Regions from separate parts of the Homo sapiens genome. Here region 1 is linked to region 2. Evidence: fine-mapped expression QTL. Tissue or cell type: whole blood. Region 2 holds a variant in brackets; the other region holds the start of a gene. All regions are shown on one strand. Distances are between the middles of the regions.

Region 1 (9,928 bases), 39 kb before region 2:
TTTTTTTTAGGTAGAGACGGGGTTTCTCCGTGTTGGTCAGGCTGATCTCGGACTCCTGACCTCAGGTGATCCACCTGCCTCAGCCTCCCAAAGTGCTGGGATTACAGGCGTGAGCCACCGTGCCCAGAATTTTTTTTTTTTTTGTGAGATGGAGTCTTCCTCTGTCGCCCAGGCTGGAGTGCAGTGGCACAATCTCAGCTCACTGCAACCTCCATTTCTCTGGTTCAAGCAATTCCCCTGCTTCAGCCTCCCGAGTCGCTGGATTACAGGTTCACGCCACCACGCCCGGCTAATTTTTTTGTATTTTTAGTAGAGATGGGGTTTCACTATGTTGGCCAGACTGGTCTCCAACTCCTGACCTTGTGATCTGCCCGCCTTGGCCTCCCAAAGTGCTGGGATTATAGGTGTGAGCCACTGCGCCCGGCCTGCTCCATGGTTTGTTTTGTTTTGTTTTGTTATTTTTTATTTATTATTTTTTTGAGACAGGGTTTCGCTCTGTTGCCCAGGCTGGAGTTCAGTGGCACAATATCAGTTCACTGCAACCTCTGCCTCCCAAGTTCAAGTGATTCTCCTGCCTCAGCCTGCCAAGTAGCTGGGATTACAGGCGCACACCACCATGCCCAGCCAATTTTTGTATTTTTAGTAAAGATGGGGTTTTGCCATGTTAGCCAGGCTGGTCTCGAACTCCTGACATCAAGTGATCCGCTCGCCTCGGCCTCCCAAAGTGCTGGGATCACAGGTGTGAGCCACTGCACCCGGCCCTGCTCCATGTATTTTTAAGCTTTCTAATTAGATGCATTTAATCAGGAAAATGTTCTGCCCCCTATTTCACTATGAAATGACCAGAATCGCTGGCAAAATTCTTGGCTCTGAAATCTACTTTAGTATTTGTTTTCTTCTTTTTCTTCAGACCCGCCTCCTGGAAATTGACTTTAGTGTTTATATGCCTATTCCAGCTGCCTTTCGACAGCGCTAGGGAGGTGCGCACTTTCCATCCTTTCTCTTTAAAATGAGTTTCTTACGGGCACTCCAAGGTCTGACTTACAGAGTCTCACTCTGTCGCCCAGGCTGGAGTGCAGAGCTGGGACCTCAGCTCACTGCAAGGTCCGCCTCCCAGGTTCGCGCCATTCTCCTGCCTCAGCCTCCCGAGTACCTGGGACTACAGGTGCCCGCCCCCACGCCTGGCTAATTTTTTGTATTTTTCAGTAGAGACGGGGTTTCACCGTGTTAGCCAGGATGGTCTTGATCTCCTGACCTTGTGATCCGCCCGCCTCGGCCTCCCAGAGTGCTGGGATTACAGGCGTGAGCCACCGCGCCCGGCCTCCAAGTTCTGACTTTTTATCCATTCTGGTCTCTGCTTTCTCATTGACGTGTTTAAACCTTTTACATCTCATGTGATTTTTTTTTATTGGATTTAAATCTACTATCTTGCTATTTATTCTCTATTTGTCCCGTGTGCTCTTTGTTCTATTTTTCTTTTTTCTGCCTCTTGCATTTTTAATTTTTGTATCATTTATTTATTTACTTTAGAGGTGAGGTCTGTCATTCAGGCTGGTGTGCAGTGGCACAATCATATCTCACTTTCTGCCCCTTTGAGAGTCTGATTCCATTTTCTCTCCTTTATTGATTTATTAGCCATCACCCTTTGTTGCTGTATTGCAGTGGTTGTGGTAAGGCTCGTAATAAATAGCTTTAACCCGTCCAGTCTCTTCATTCTTCTGTGGAGACCCCGACTTCTATCCAGTCTCACCTTCCTTTTGTCTGAAGGACTTCTGGAACATGTCTTGTACTGCAAGTCTGCTAGTGATGGATTATTTTAGCTTTTGTAAGTGCAAAAAAGTCTTTATTTTGCCTTTGTTTTTGAAAAATATCTTTGCTGGGCATAGAACTACAGTTATTCCTCAGTATCCCTGGGGGATTGGTTCCAGTACCTGCCATGGGTACCAAAATCCACGAATGTTCAAGTCCCTTATGCAAAATGTCATAGTGTTTCCATATAACCTATGCACATTCTTCCATACACTTTAAATCATCTGTAGCGGCGAGCGTGATGACTCACACCTGTAATCTCTGTAATTTGGTAGGCTGAGGTGGGAGGATCACTTGAGGCCAGGAGTTCAAGACCAGCCTGGGCAACATAGTAAGATACCATCTCTACAAAAAATAAAATAAAATAAAAATTAGCAGGGCATGGTGGTGTGTGCCTGTGGTCCCAGCTACTCGGCAGAGTCATGCAGGAGGATTGGTTGAGCTCAGGAGGTCGAGGCTGCAGTGAGCTATAACCGTATTATCCTACTCCAGCCTGGGAGACAGAGCGAGACCCTGTTTCTAAAATATATACATATCGAGATTACTTATAATACCTCATGCGATGTACATGCTAAATGAATACTTGTTATACCATATTGTTTAAGGAATAATGACAAGGAAGAGCAGTCTGTGCATTTCGGTGCAAGTAATTTTTTTCTGAGTATTTTTGATCCTTGGTTGAATCCACAGACGCAGAGCCTGTGAATACAGACGCCTGACACTATCAGTCAGCTTCTCCCTTGCCCTCAGCACTTCAAAGGTGTGATTCCACTCTGTTCTGACTTGCATTATTCCTGAAGAAATGTCTGCAATCACTGCAATCTTTTCATTTATTTTTTTAGAAGGAGTCTCTCGCTCTGTCACTAGGCTGGAGGGCAGTGGCGTGATCTTGGCTCACTGCAACCTCCACCTCCCAGGTTCAAGCGGTTCTCGTGCCTCAGCCTCCTGAGTTACCTGGGATTACAGGCCTGTGCCACCACACCCAGCTATTTTTTTTTATTTTTAGTAGAGATGGGATTTCACCATGTTTACCAGGATGGACTCGATCTCCTGACCTTGTGATCCGCCCGCCTCAGCCTCCCAAAGTGCTGGGATTACAGGCGTGAGCCACCGCGCCTGGCCTGTAATCATTCTTATCTTTGTTCCTCTGTACACAATGTCTTGTGTGTGTGTGTGTGTGTGTGTACAGCTGCTTTTAAGATTTTTCACTGATTTAAAGCAATTTGAGGCCAGGCACGGTGGCTTATGCCTGTAATCCCAGCATTCGGGAGACCAAGGTGGGCAGATCACCTGAAGTCAGGAGTTCAAGACCAGCCTGACCAACATGGCAAAATCCCGTCTCTACTAAAAATACAAAAAATTGGCCAGGCATGGTGGCACATGCCTATAATCCCAGCTATTCAGGAGGCTGAGGCAGGAGAATCACTTGAATCCAGGAGGCAGAGGTTGTGCTGAGTCAAGATCGTGCCATTGCACTCCAGCCTGGGAGACAGAGCAAGACTCCATCTCAAAAAATAAAAAAATAAATAAATAAAGCAATTTGCTTTCCATCTTGGTGTAGTTTCCTTCATGTTTCTTGAGTTTGAGGTATGTTAAACTTCTTGGGTCTGTAGGTTTGTAGTTTTAAAAAAACTTTTCAATCATTATTTTTTTTTGTTGTTTTGTTTTTGTTTTTTGAGACAGCGTCTTGCTCTGTCTCCCAGGCTGGAGTGCAGTGGTGCAATCTCTACTCACTGAAACCTCCACCTCCCGGGTTCCAGCGATTCTTCTGCCTCAGCTTCCTGAGTAGCTGGGATTACAGGCACATGCCACCACACCTGGCTAATTTTTTATATTTTTAGTAGACACGAGATTTCATCATGTTGGCCAAGCTGATCTCGAACTCCTGACCTCAAGGGATCTGCCCGCCTCGGCCTCCCAAAGTGCTGGGATTACAGGCGTGAGCCACCTCACCTGGCAATCATTACTTCTTAAAATGTCTTTCTCCCCATCCTTCCACCCCCAGGGGACTTCAAATCACACTGCTTGAAGCGGCCCCACAGCTCACTGATGCTCTGCTCACTCTCTTAGCCTTCCCTCTCTGTTTTACGTTAGACGACTTCTGTTGCCATGTCCTTGAGAGTTTTAAGTCCTTGCTTTCCTCCTTGGTAGTGTTTTCTGAAACCTGATGTTTTGCCCAAAACTGATATATTATTTTCATGTATACATGTGTGAGTTTAGATTTGCATGGCTGAGCTTTCATAGCCCATCGTTGAATCATTGTAATATATTGGTCTGTGTCTAAACTGTGATGAAATGAGCGAAAGATTCAGACCCGGCTTAGAAGACGATGTGCAAGTCACAGGCCTTTAAGTGTCCTAATGCCTAGACAGAGAACAGACAACCACTGAGTGAGATGGGAATGTGGGTGAGAGGTTAAGTACAGGAATTATTTCAAGATTGCAAAAATAAGTCTCTTAAAGACCACATATTGCATAGTTCCCTTAACAGGGAAGGCCCAGCCTAGGCAAACTCCTGGACACAGAAGATTAGTGGCTGCAGGCGGGGGAGGGGCAGTGTGCTGACTGCTACAGGAGACCGGTGGTGAATGCAGCGGTGGAGGCGGGCCCAGCGCTGGGAATGTACCACCACCGTCGCGCTGTGCATTTTTTTTTTTTTTTTGAGATGAAGTCTGGCTCTGTTGCCCAGGCTGGAGTGCAGTGGCAAGATCTCGACTCACTGCAACCTCCGCCTCCCGGGTTCAAGCGATTCTCCTGCCTCAGCCTCCCGAGTAGCTGGGATTACAGGCACGCACTACCACGTCCAGCTAATTTTTGTATTTTTAGTAGAGACGGGGTTTCACCATGTTGGCCAGGCTGGTCTCGATCTCCTGACCTCCTGATCCACCTGCCTCGGCCTCCCAAAGTACTGGGATTACAGGCATGAGCCACAGAACCCGGCCATGCGCTGCGCATTTTACGCGGATGAAGCGGATGGCCTGGGCACTGTGGACTGTGGGTCCAGGGAGCTGTTTTGACAACGTCTTCATTCCTGCCGCTGTAATGGGGCGCACGTGCACGCACGGACGTGGCTTCTCCCCAGGGTGTCACCGCGTAGGTATCACGCTGATTCCAGCGCAGCCGCCCTCGCCGGGCCTCAGCGGGGAGTGGCCGGGCAGCAGGGGCGTGGCTGGGAACCGGGCGTGGCCTGAGCTGGGGGCGTGGCCTAGCTGTGGGGGCGTGGCTGGGCCGTGGGGGCGGGCCCTCCGCGCAAGCATCCGCCGACGTGGGGCGGGGCCGGGCGTGCGGGCGGTTGGGCGGGGGCGGGGCCGGCGGCGGCGGGTAACGGAGGGGGCGGGGCTGGCGCAGGGGTGGGGTTGCCGTTGCGGGGCGGGGCGGCGCAGGCGCTGTGCGCGGCACTCAGCGGTTTTCCCTCCCCCAACGGCGCGCCGGCTGTGGCCGGCGCAGAGTAGTGCTCGGGCCGGGGGTCGCCTCCCGCCTCCCGCCTCCCGCCTCCCGCCGCCCGCCGCCCGCGTCGCCCTCGCCGCCGTTGGGCCGCGCCGCGCCGCCATGTCGGGCCCCGGACCGCGGGAGCCGCCGCCGGAGGCAGGCGCGGCAGGCGGCGAGGCGGCCGTCGAGGGCGCGGGCGGCGGGGACGCGGCGCTGGGCGAGCCGGGGCTGAGCTTCACGACCACCGACCTGAGCCTGGTGGAGATGACGGAGGTGGAGTACACGCAGCTGCAGCACATCCTCTGCTCGCACATGGAGGCGGCGGCTGACGGCGAGCTCGAGACGCGCCTCAACTCGGCGCTGCTGGCGGCGGCGGGCCCGGGCGCAGGCGCGGGCGGCTTCGCGGCGGGCGGTCAGGGGGGCGCGGCGCCCGTGTACCCCGTGCTGTGCCCGTCCGCGCTGGCGGCCGACGCGCCCTGCCTGGGCCACATCGACTTCCAGGAGCTGCGCATGATGCTGCTAAGCGAGGCGGGCGCGGCGGAGAAGACGTCGGGCGGCGGGGACGGAGCGAGGGCCCGGGCCGACGGCGCCGCCAAGGAGGGCGCGGGCGCGGCTGCGGCTGCGGCTGGACCCGACGGCGCGCCCGAGGCCCGGGCCAAGCCGGCCGTGCGCGTCCGCCTGGAGGACCGCTTCAACAGCATCCCCGCCGAGCCGCCGCCCGCGCCGCGCGGCCCCGAGCCCCCCGAGCCGGGCGGGGCGCTCAACAAGTGCGTGCCCGGCGGCCGGGGGCTGGCGGGGCCCGGGTGGAGGCCGAGGCCGGGGCCGGGGCCGGGGCGGAGGCAAAGGGGGCCCTCGCTGTGCACGCCCCCAGCCTGCCCTCCCGGCGGCACAGGGCGCGGACCTCACCGGGTCTGGGGCCGCCCCGAAAGGCTGTGTGCGCTGTGCGGGCCCCGGGGAGCAGGTACTTCCAGAAACTAAACACCCCCTCCCTCAGTGGCCCCGCCTGGAGTGGGGCCGAGCGCGCAGAATTCCTGGGAACCATGTGCTCCGGGTGGCACTCTTGGATGTCAGGGAAGCCTAGGAAGGCCCGACGGGGGTTTGCAGGCTTTGAGCTCTAAAATGAGGCTCCAGCCTGCAGCCGCCCCCTTGGCGACCCTCAGGGATGGCTGTGGAAGGGGCTGCGTCCGCAGTTTTCTGCTCATCCCAGCCTGTAGTTGCCCATCGTGGTCACACTGGAGGATGGCAAAAGTGAGATTGGTGTCAGGATGTGATGAGAGCAGGGAGGTGGCGCAGTTTTGCTTTTCCTCCATAGGAAGAGGAGGACTTCCACAGCAGCGATAGTTGCTAATTGTTGTGTAGAGATTTCCAGGATGAGAGTTGGGTTGCTGTCTGGAAAAACTAGCCAGAGCCATGGGAGTGGGATGGTGGATGCTTGTCTGCCACGTATTGCTGACACTTCTGGGCTTTCTTTTGTCTTGGCAGTTTGGTAACTCTCATTCGACATCCATCTGAACTAATGAATGTTCCTCTTCAGCAACAAAACAAATGTACAGCATTAGTGAAAAATAAAACTGCGGCTACAACTACTGCTTTGCAATTTACATACCCACTGTTTACTACAAATGCTTGCTCTACTAGTGGAAATTCTAATCTTTCACAGACACAGGTAGGGAACATGATTTGTGAAGCTTTGCTCTTTTGTATTAAATGGGTAAATTTTAACTTATTTTGGTTAGGTCCCAAGTACTTTTTTTTCCCTTCAGTGAGCTTAATAACCTTTTAAGCCGGGCGCCAAGGCCGACACCTGTAATCCCAGCACTTTGGGAGGCCGAGGTGGGTGGGTCATTTGAGTTCAGGAGTTCAAGACTAGCCTGGCCAACATGGTGAAACCCCGTACGAAAATTAACCAGGTGGTAGTGGCGGACACCTGTAATCCCAGCTGCTCAGGAGGCTGAGGCGGGAGAATCGCTTGAGCCTGGGAGGTGGAGGTTGTGGTGGGCTGACATCGCGACCCTGCACTCCAGTCTGGGCGACAGAGTGAGAGCCTGTCTCAAAAAAAAAAACAAAAAAACAAAAACAAAAAAATACCTGTGAAAGTTGAGTGTTTATGTGGTATGCGAATATTTTTAAATCTTCAGTGCAACTAAAGTTCTTCAAATTACGTGTTAGTAGTTTTGATGTTTGTTAAGTGCATTTCATTTGTGCAGTAAAGAGGAGAGTAAGCCACATATTGATAAAATTCCTGTTGCTTCATTTTTTTCCAGAGTTCTAGTAACTCATGTTCTGTACTTGAAGCTGCCAAGCACCAGGATATTGGATTGCCTAGAGCATTTTCTTTCTGTTATCAGCAAGAAATTGAATCCACTAAACAGACGTTAGGTAGTAGAAACAAAGTTTTGCCTGAGCAAGTTTGGATTAAAGTGGGAGGTAAGCGATGAAGCAGCAGGTAGTGGGAGCTTTCTTCTGACTGAGCCCTGTGGCTGATGGCATTTTGGCCTTGGGGGGCAGGGGAGACAGATGGTTTGTACACATGTGAAACAGTCTTGGAGGTGTCTGTGTATCTCAGGGGTCTGTCCACCCGCTTCCCTGTCTTTTCGCTTTAAACATTATTCTGATTCTCAAACATAATTAATCTTGGTGTGAGAACGTTGCGTTTGAGGGCTTTTTCTTAACAGTAAAGTGATAGACTTACATAAATTTTCAGTTATTTTCAAGTTACTGAAAGTACTTTATAGTTTTTTATTTTCCTTATGTTATACTCGATGAGTGAGGCAGTCATCTAACATCTGCCGAAAGCCTTTGGATAGGTGGCTGCTAATAGGAGGACCCTATTAGGGCTGCCAGGGAGAGGCTGTAAGGTGATTCGGAAAGTTTGGAAATAAAGTCACTGCTGAAGGCACTGCTGCGCTAACCTGCATAGTCCCTTCCTCCCTGGGAAACACCTGCGTAGCCCCTTCCTCCCTGGGAAACACCTGCGTAGCCCCTTCCTCCCTGGGAAACACCTGCGTAGCCCCTTCCTCCCTGGGAAACACCTGCGTAGCCCCTTCCTCCCTGGGAAACACCTGCGTAGCCCCTTCCTCCCTGGGAAACACCTGCGTAGCCCCTTCCTCCCTGGGAAACACCTGCATAGCCCCTTCCTCCCTGGGAAACACCTGCGTAGCCCCTTCCTCCCTGGGAAACTGATTTGTGAAGTGACCCGAAAAAAGAACACTCCTTACACTTAGCTTTCCAAGAGTTGGTGAAGACAAGATGGGGAGGAAGAGCTACCGCCTTCTCCCATGTCAGTCCTTCCTTTTCCTCCCTATAAAATTTTATGCCAAAGTATATGTTCACATTTGTAAGATACAAAGATGAGTATTAAAGCAGCCTCTGTGCCGACTACTCAGGTTAAGGAATAAAATATCACCAAAACGACCGAATTCCTCTCTCTCCTGCTGAAAGCTTCATCATCCTTCTGAAATGGGTGCTTTGTGTGGCATACGCGTGCACATGAGCACGCCTGCCAGTCACGTGCCTGTGGTCCTTTGATGGATACAGTTCCACTGACGCACACGTGGCATAGCCTGTCACGCAGCAGAAAAGCTCGGACGCTACTTCTTCCTGCTTTGGGGAGGAGAGCCACTTCTGCGGCGAGGGCACACACACACGCTGCTGCAGTTTTGTTCTGAGCATTGCAGTAAAAATACTGTCATATTAGAATAATTGTTTTTTTTTCTTGTTCTTAGAATAATTGTATATAAAGAAAATATTTTTGGGAGGAAATATGTCCAGGTGGTTTGTTGTTGTTGTTTTTTTTTTTCCATTCTGACCTTTAGAAAAAGTAAACAACTTCTTGTTTTCTGTATTCATAGATAACACCTGTTAATTAAAAAGAGGGGCTTTGGATGAGGTCATATTGGTTGCATAGCACTTGGAAAACGTATTTAGTGTGATGATTGATTCTTGTTCAGTTTCGTTGTATAAAATAGGCTTGGGCTTCATGGTCCCTGCTGATGCTGAAAAACTGCATTAGTACATCTCTTTGTGTTTCGGTTCTCTGTGCTGCTTACCCAATAATGTTTATATCTTGGATTGAAAAGGCCAAAACTGTATTCAGCATTAATTGAGATAAGAATACAAAATTAAAAACCACTTTTTTCTTCTTTCGCAAAGAAGCAGCGCTATGCAAACAAGCACTGAAGAGGAATCGGAGTAGAATGCGTCAGTTGGACACAAATGTAGAGCGAAGAGCCCTTGGAGAGATTCAGAATGTGGGCGAAGGTGCCACCGCCACACAAGGCGCTTGGCAGTCCTCGGAGTCCTCACAGGCAAACCTGGGGGAGCAGGCCCAGAGTGGGCCCCAGGGAGGAAGGTCTCAACGTAGGGAGAGGCATAACCGAATGGAAAGAGATAGAAGGTAATACGTGTGACTGCTTGTCAGGCTGACTCATATATGATTACCTTAGTCATACATGGTTATCACAGATGAGTGATCCTTAGCCGTTTCTGCGTTCAGAGGGAATAAAGCAGGTAGGAGCATCGTTAGCTTTCCCAGATGGATCAAGGATCCCCCAGACTATGCCCAGGCTCGCTGGCTCACTAGGAGGACTCCCGGGACTCCGCATGCAGTCACTCTCAGGCTGTGACTTACTATGGAGAAAGGATGCCAGGTGCGATCAGCAAAGGCGCGTGGGGAGAAGGCAGGAGCTGAG
Region 2 (8,000 bases):
CAGGGGCGGCCCAGACACAAGCAGCCCTTCCTCTAGGGCTCCCCAGCAAGTTCCCCCAAGATGCCACCTAGTAGTCTCCAAATCCCTGCTTCCCCTCCTGCTCTGGCCTAAGCCACAACAGCCCTCACAGCAGCCTGGGACCGTGTGTGTGGGTGTCAGCGAGCAGAGTTCATCAGCCCTCGCCCGGGCACACGCGTGAATAGCCCTCACAGCAGCCTGGGACCGCGTGCGGGCATCAGTGAGCGCCGACTGTCAGCTCTCGCCCAGGCACATGCGAGAACAGGGGCCCAGAGCAAGGCCTGCGCCACAGTGGCGATGGCCAGAGCCAGGGTGCCGGCTGCTTCAGAGTGTCACTCACGGGGCCCATCTGAAGTCTGGAGGTGCAGACAACCAGGCCCCCAGCCACCTGGCCGGCCCCCACTAGGGGCTGCAGGACTTACCCGGTCCCCAGGGGGCCCGAGTGGCCCTGGCAGTCCTCGTAATCCCCGGGGGCCCTGCGAGAGAGAGGCACAGATGCAGAGGCTGGGGCTGCACCTCCACCCCGGGGAGCACCCAGGGCCAAGGCCCTCGGGGTACCCCTGGGAGCCCTGGTGTCTTCCATGAGCCCTCAGCCTCAGCTCAGGTCCCCCAGAGGGAGGGGGCACCAGCCTTGAGGTCAGCAGCCTTGGCAGAGGTGGGACCCCCAGCCAGGTCGCGCTCCTGTGCCTGGGTGTTGGCCAAACACCCCCCAGCCGGAGCTGGCCCCCTCGGGGGTAGATATGTGCAGGGCTTGATCACTCTGTGGGCTGAGTTCCCATCCCACCATCCTTACCCCTTCCTAGCCTCACCTGCAGCCCCACGCTGCCCGGGAGGCCGGCGGGCCCAGGGGGGCCAGGGTCACCCTGAAACAGAGGGGATAGGGTGGTCAGCGGCCCAGTCTGGCTCTCCTTGCACCTTTCGGTGCCTCCAGTCACCCTACTCAAGCCCAAGCAGCTGGGGGTGTTGCCCCCTTCACAGCTGGGCCTTGGAGGCTCTGTGAAGGGGACACTTGCCCACAGTTCCAGAGCAGTCCCGCGAGTCTCGGTGGCCTCGCCCTGCCGGGCCGGGGTCCGTGGTCACTGTTCCCACAAGGCCCTTCAGCCCTGTCCAGGCCCCTCCTCGTGGCCAAGCAGGGACCCCTCTGATGTGCACCTGGGGTCTCCTCATCTGATCACTCCAGCCACGCTAAAGGGCATCCCAGACCTGGTCCCCCGGCCTGCAGGTGACCATGGACAGACACCCTCCACGGACAGCGACCACAGGTGAGGGGAGGCTACAGGCTAAAGCCAGCCATCCTCACAGATGCCCCTCGCCCCGGCCACAGACACAAACCAGGGAGCTTCCACAGCGAGGCCAGGCAGGACGGGGTCTGTCCAGGGACCCTGCCTAAATCACCCAGCTCTGACCAGCCAGGCCCTGTCTGGAAGACAGGCACAGAAGGTGCCAGTGCAGGTGCACCCATGAAACGGTCCCTCCCCACCGCCGGAGCCCAGCCCCTCCCTCCCGCCGGAGCCCAGCCCCTCCCTCCCGCCGGAGCCCAGCCCCTCCCTCCCGCCGGAGCCCAGCCCCTCCCTCCCGCCGGAGCCCAGCCCCTCCCTCCCGCCGGAGCCCAGCCTCCAGTCCCCAGCTCCTCCCCAGCTGCTGTGCGGCAGCTTCACCTTCTCGCCGTCCTTGCCGACTTCCCCCTGCTCGCCTTTGTAGCCAGTGGGTCCCTGCAAGCAAATGTGGGGTCACTGCCCCACCCAGACCCCCCGACACCCCCTCCCTGGCAACACTGAAGTGAGGCCTGCAGGGTCAGTCAGCCCAGGGCCCGCCACACGGCAGCGCACAGGACCGCGGGTCTGGGCCCTCATGGGGAAACTGAGGCCTGAGAGGCGCTAGGACCCACATGAGGGCGCTCTGCGGTCAGGAGCGGGCCAGGGCTGGGCTGGGGTGGGAGCTTGAGGCTAGCTCTCCCCCGCAGTCTCTGACGCCTATGGCCAGTCCCAGCCTGGCCACATCAGCGTGTCACTGGGGTGCTGAAGGCGGGACAAGGAGGCTGGCCTAGCTTTCTTCCTGGGGCAACCCTGGAACCAGGGTCCAGCTTTCTGGACCCGCCACCTCCACAGCCCCATGGGAGCCCAGCTGCCTCCTGCCCAGCACAGGGTGGTGCTTGGGTCCCAGTCACCCGTGACTCACCTTGAACCCTGGCATTCCAGGGGGCCCTGGGGGACCTGGCGGGCAGATACTTGGGCACTGTCGGAAAACAGAGCAGTCAGACCCCTCCCAGCCAAACAGAGCAGGACGTCCGACGCAGGGGTCAGCGCCCGCGGGACCCCAGGAGGCCACTCTGCACGGTGACGGGACCCCGGGAGGCCACTCCTCATGGTGACAGGACCCCAGGAGGCCACTCCGCATCAGTGACGGGACCCCAGGAGGCCACTCCGCACAGATGATGGGACCCCAGGAGGCCACTCCACGTGGGTGACGGGGCCCCGGGAGGCCACTCCGCGCGGGTGTCGGGACACTCTGGGTGACAGGACCCCAGGAGGCCACTCCACACAGAGACGGGACCCCAGGAGGCCACTCCGCGTGGGTGACGGGGCCCCAGGAGGCCACTCCGCGCGGGTGTCGGGACACTCTGGGTGACAGGACCCCAGGAGGCCACTCCACACAGTGACGGGACCCCAGGAGGCCACTCCACACAGTGACGGGACCCCAGGAGGCCACTCCGTACAGGTGATGGCACTGGGACAGGACACAGACAGGGTCTCCTTCAGCACTGGCCAAGTGCAGCAGGGGCTGCATGGAGCAGCCGGCCCCACGGCAGACACTGGCTATCAAAGCAGCCATTCAGCACAGTCCCGGCCGGCACTGCAGGGGGCCTTGCAGCAGCCTCAGGTCGGGCCCATCCTCAGCACAGGAATGTGCTCGGCATGGGGCTTTTAGGAGGGGCACTGTGAGCCCAGGCAACAGGTCTGATGCTCAGGAAACCCAGGGCTGCTTCTAGATGATCCTACAGCTGCAATGGGCAGGCCAGGCCAAGGGTGCAGACCCGTATCTTCAGCCCCTGCCCCACTCAGCCCACGATCGGGGGCCCAACCACGCACCACATTCTGGAAGGTTCCCTAAAGCCTCCCTTCTGGGACACAGGCTGGCCAGGCACCTAGGCCCCGGGGTGGGGTGAGGAGAGAGGCTGGTAGACAGCGTCGGTGGTCAGGTCAGAGTGGGCCGAGCTTTTCCCTTCAAAACTATCAAACCTCTCTATGG[A/C]AACAAGGCGCTGACTGCCACCACGGACGGCCAAACAGAGAGGAGAGATGGATCCGTGGCCTCCGAAGCCCATTTTCTTTCCTCTTCATTTTTTTGAGACAGGCTTGAGCTTGGCTGCTCACGCTGGAGTGCAGTGGCTTGATCACAGCACCCTGCAACCACTGCCTCCTGGGCTCAAGTGATCCTCCCACCACAGCCATCCAAGTAGCTAGGACAACAGGCACGCCACCACGTCTGGCTACTTTAACAATTTTTTGTAGAGACAAAGATCTCACTATGTTGCCCAGGCTGGTCTCAAACTCCTGAGCTTAAGCGATCCTCCTGTCTGGGCCTCCCAAAGTGCTGGGATTACAGGCCTGAGCCACTGCGCCTGACCTGAGCCTGTTTTCTTTTCAGGCAAATGACAAGGCTCAAAGATCAAGATAAAGGTGGGTCCCAGACTCCAGTTCTGTCGCCATCTGTGGCCAAGGGCGCCCTCTGCGGATGACGCAGGGGAGCTGGATGGCTCTGTGACATGATTGTGATTCATTACATTTGTACAGCTCCATGCGCCTGGTGGCTTCATGAGGGACAGTGCAGGTCTAGACGGTGGTGAGGAGGGTGGGAAGGGGGAGGGGGAGGTCCCAGCCAGCCTCTCTGCCAGGTTGTGCCCGAGCTGTCTGCTCTGAGCTCCTGTCCCCAGGGAGGGCTCGGGCCCTGCCTTCTTGCCAGTATGGACAAGCCCCTCTCCAGGCCAGAACCCCTCCCCCCAAGGTAGGCACCCCCCAGCACCCTTAACAAATGGCTTCAAGTGCCTACCTGAAGGTCAGTAGCGCCTTCAGGGAGGACTCCTGGGTGTCCCTAAGACAAAAAGAGACAGCTGACATTCTCCCGCCCTCCCCAGCCACCTGCAGCCACCCAACCCACCCACCCACTCTCTGACGGACCACAACCTTCCCCATCCACCAGGGGACTTGGAGACCCTTCATCCTGTCCCCCAAGTGGCCAGTGCTGGGAGCTGCTGGCCCACCCACAGGGCATGTGACAACGACAGAATCCACCTGTCCTTGGGGCAGGATGGCCATGGGGACCTGAGTCCTGACCATCCCCAAGTTGGCTGGCCTAGCCACAGCCACTGCCCCCACCATTGACTGTTCCTGGGAGTGGCCAAGTTAGGGTTAGGAGATCTCGGAGGGGCATGGAGCCTGGGGAGGGGGAATGGGGAGGGTCCAACCCAGTGTCCTAGTCCATGCCCAGCACTTCTTAGAGCCTCTGCCCAGTACTTACAGGGGGTCCGGGAGGTCCTGGGGGACCAGGGAGGCCGGGGAGTCCAGAAGGTCCCTGGGGAGGGGGTATGACTTAGACAGAGTGGGACCAGCCCCCACCTGAGTGAGGTGCCCGGCTTCTCCCAGGGAGGTGGACACGCCCAGCTCCCACCAGCCCCCACTCCCACGGACTGTGCTGGTGTCTGCGTCCTGAGGTCGGGTCTGGATCATTGGCCAGGGCTTCTACCAACACCCACCAAGGTGGGGTTGGGGGAGAAAGGGAAAAGGGAGAGGGGAAGGGAGCCCCTGGCTGTTGAGTCTGGGGGTGGAGGCCACAGGTGAGCACACTCTGAGGGGCTCTGGGACAGCCACTCACCGGGGGGCCGCGGAGGCCGATCCCACCTGGGGGGCCGCTCACTCCTGCCTCTCCCTGGAGGGAAGTAAAGAGAGGTGGGGAGGTCTGCACCCGGAAGCCCCGAGGATCCCCACCCAGGGTTGGTGTGCCGCCTCCGAAGGGAGAGGGGCTCCAAGTATGGGGTGGTCAGATGGCTGCCCCTGAGAAGCCCCACCCCCAGGCACGGTTTGGGACATCCCAGCCTGGCAGGCTCTCGGGACTTGCGTGCTTGCTCAGGGCCCCAAGGGTTGTCAGTACTCACGGGGGGTCCAGGGAGGCCTTTGCCCTGCAAAGCCAAACATGGGGTCAGAGCCTGCCAGGCACAAGAAGGGCTGCGCCTCACCCCTCCCTAAGATGGCTCAGGTGGGTCCTGGGGAAAGGGCGGTTCCAGGGATGGGTGTCTGGTCCCAGCCCAGAGAGGGCACCAGGACCCCATCCAGGCACCAGCCTCCGGAGAGGCTGCAGATGAGAGGGCCAGGGATGGTCCCTGGGATTCCTGGAGGCCACCCCATTTAGACCAGACTCTCCAGCTCCCCAAACTCCCATGGAGAGGAGAGGACCACACTCCATACTCACCCCCAGCCCGGGCGGCCCCGGGGGTCCCAGACTTCCCTGTGGGAGGAAAGCAGGCGTCTAGGTTGGGCTGGGCCTCTATTTGCAAACCCAATCCCCTCCCTCTGAAGTGTGACGTCACAACTCCAACTCCCAGGACAACAGGGTCCAAGTCCCCACTTCACAGAGGGGCAGGGCCTCTGAGCCCTCTTGACCTGGAGGGTCTTTGCCGTCCTGGGGAGCTGCTGGAGACAGATGGCACCAGAGTCCCAGCGCTCGCTGCAAGAAGGTGCAACCTGAGGCAGGGCTGAGAGGCACCGAAGTGACCCGGGGTGCCTGTCTCCACCAGGAAGCCCTCCCGATAACCCACCCACGGAGCCTGCTGAGTCCTCAGCCCCCGCCCACGTCAGCGAGCCCCAGAGCCTTGGGCAGCCAGGCCCTGTCTGCCCTCCACACCCTCTGGGCCCTGTCTGGCCCCTGCTGCCTGAAATGCCTCATTCCCTGGACGGCACGCACGGGCCCTGTGCTGAGGCTGGAGGCCCCTCCTGAAAGCCTGGGGACCAGCCCACCCCACACCCCTGGGCACCACGGACTCGGCTGCCAGCAGCTACTGTTTCCCTCCTGTTTTCAGCTCAGAATCCGCCTCATGCCTGACGAGCTCCCAAGGGTCCCAAGGGCAGGGCTGTGTCCTCGTGTCCCCAGCCCAGCCTTCCTGCCCTCTGTGATGCTTTGCGCCTGGGGCCAGTGGCACCCGGTTGGCTGACAGCCACGTCTTATGAAGCCAAAGAGAGAATGCTGGCTTCGGGTTTGTACTCAGAAGCCACAAGGGGAGAAAGGCACCCTTGGGTGGTGGTGCCGCTCCGTCAGGGTAAAGGATTCAGTGTCCAACAGGCAGGCACAGGGGACTCTGCAGGCTGCGTGCCCGGGGGTCCCTGGTGGTGGTCTGCCCAGGGCCCTGGGGGCTTCAGGGACATTCTGAGGAGGCACCTGGGGTGGGTTCCCCCAAACCATCCCCCTTCTCCCTGCCATGGTCTGGATACCAGGACAACTCTGACCATACGTGGAGGTGAGGCAGGGAGGCAGGCACAGGGGACTGGCCACTTGGCACCCTGCCCTTCTGCCCCTCCACCCCAGGCACGGGCAGGGCAGCTGTCCTTGGAACTACCAGCTCCTTGGCCTTGTGGACACAGAGCAGCCAGAGGTGGCCAGGGGACCTCACCTCTGAACCCAAGCCACTGGGTTCGGCGCAGGCACTTACCCGTTCCCCAGGGGCACCCTTGGGTCCAGGGGGTCCATCTCGTCCAGTCAGACCCTGGGGAGAGGCAGAGGGCGAGCTCGAGGGGCCACATGGGAAGCACATGCCACCCCCCAGGCAAAAATGGAAGCACGGACCCTTCCCTTGGTGAGTCCAGAGAGGCATAGAAGACCCTTAGGGTGGCAGCCTCCTCTCTTGGCCCTGTCCACTGTCTGCCTGCTGTAGCCAGAGGCTCTGGGAGGAGGGAGGGGGCAGCCAGCGGGAAGCCAGCAACGGAGGCACCTGCTGTAGTCAGGCCTCGGGGACCAACCCAGCAGGACTGGACAGCTCACTTCTCAGGCCCGGCTTCCTCCGAACAAAACTCCGTGGCCCTGGGGCCAGGCCTGGAGCCCAAGATGACTAAGTGAGGCCAGCAGTGGGCAGAAGGTCCTGACAATGGGCACTCATTCCTGGACAAGCAAGGAGGGCTGGCGGGACTTCCGACTCCACTGGGCTGGCTCTGTCCCCTGCCAGATGCTGGTGGCGTCTGGGATGAAGGCCAAAGGACCCCTGTTGGGGACTTCTGGAGACTTCTCTCAGGACTGGGCTTCCCGCCTGAGCAGGCCCAGCTGGACAACAGCAATTAGGGCCGGACTCCTCCAGGGACCCGGAGCGGGGAGTGGGGCATGGCGGGGAGGGGCAGGCGCACTCACATCCACACCCGGCAGTCCCGGCAGCCCAGCCTCTCCTGGTTTCCCCGGCTTTCCTGGGGCCCCCTTTGGTCCCTGTGCAGGAGGAAAGGGCAGAGATGTGAAGGCGGGGTCTGGCCTGGAGCCCAGGCCTTCAGCAATGAAGCAAAATGCTTTCCACTTCCCCCCAGCCCAACCATACGGGATGGGCCCCTCTCCTGGGTCCCCCCTACTGTCTGGCAGACCCGGCTCAGCTGGGGCACGTGTGTCCTGCTTGCCCACACCTTGCTGGCCCAGGAAGGCTGCCCGCCCCATCCCTCAGTGGCATCTGTAAGACCTTCGTCTGGTCACCTCGGCCTCCCTGGCTAAGGGCCAGCAGGCATCTCTGTCGGACCCCCAGTGGGCCCAGACAGGGCTCTGAGCCCCAGGACCCTCAACCCCTGGAACTGAAGAAGGTGGGAGGGCTCCAGGTGACCTCAGGCCTGGGGGACCTGAAGGGCTGTACCAGCCCCGGTCCCGGCCTGCCTGGCGCTGGTCCAAAGAAAGCTTCAAAGCCAGGCCCTGCCCTGAACATGCAGAGGCTGAGCCCACACACTCCCCTCCCGCCCCGCTGGCTCCAG

Evidence for each region. PIP is the estimated chance that this variant, and not a neighbour inherited with it, causes the effect.
Region 1: TCFL5 starts here. The variant in region 2 is fine-mapped to the expression of TCFL5 in whole blood (INTERVAL, PIP above 0.99).

The regions. Positions count from the first base shown.
Region 1 is chr20:62,857,100-62,867,027 of GRCh38, reverse strand. It overlaps TCFL5 (transcription factor like 5), which reads left to right and starts at 5,206. Exons shown (of 6, transcript NM_006602.4): 1 at 5,206-6,004; 2 at 6,720-6,903; 3 at 7,502-7,664; 4 at 9,390-9,633. The coding sequence starts at 5,358. It overlaps LOC105372717 (a long non-coding RNA gene), which reads right to left and starts at 5,593. Exons shown (of 4, transcript XR_936989.4): 1 at 5,487-5,593. RefSeq lists silencers at 4,798-4,897, 4,948-5,137, 5,638-5,787 and an enhancer at 4,759-5,413.
Region 2 is chr20:62,818,698-62,826,697 of GRCh38, reverse strand. COL9A3 (collagen type IX alpha 3 chain) reads right to left here. Exons shown (of 32, transcript NM_001853.4): 4 at 7,405-7,476; 5 at 6,716-6,769; 6 at 5,482-5,517; 7 at 5,168-5,191; 8 at 4,888-4,941; 9 at 4,534-4,587; 10 at 4,066-4,107; 11 at 2,197-2,253; 12 at 1,677-1,730; 13 at 828-881; 14 at 441-494. Among named protein-coding and RNA genes, the nearest start is that of COL9A3, 5.6 kb to the right of the region's middle. RefSeq lists a silencer at 1,440-1,499 and enhancers at 2,088-2,775, 2,776-3,464, 7,346-8,000. The variant A/C (reference allele first, on the strand shown) is at 3,268.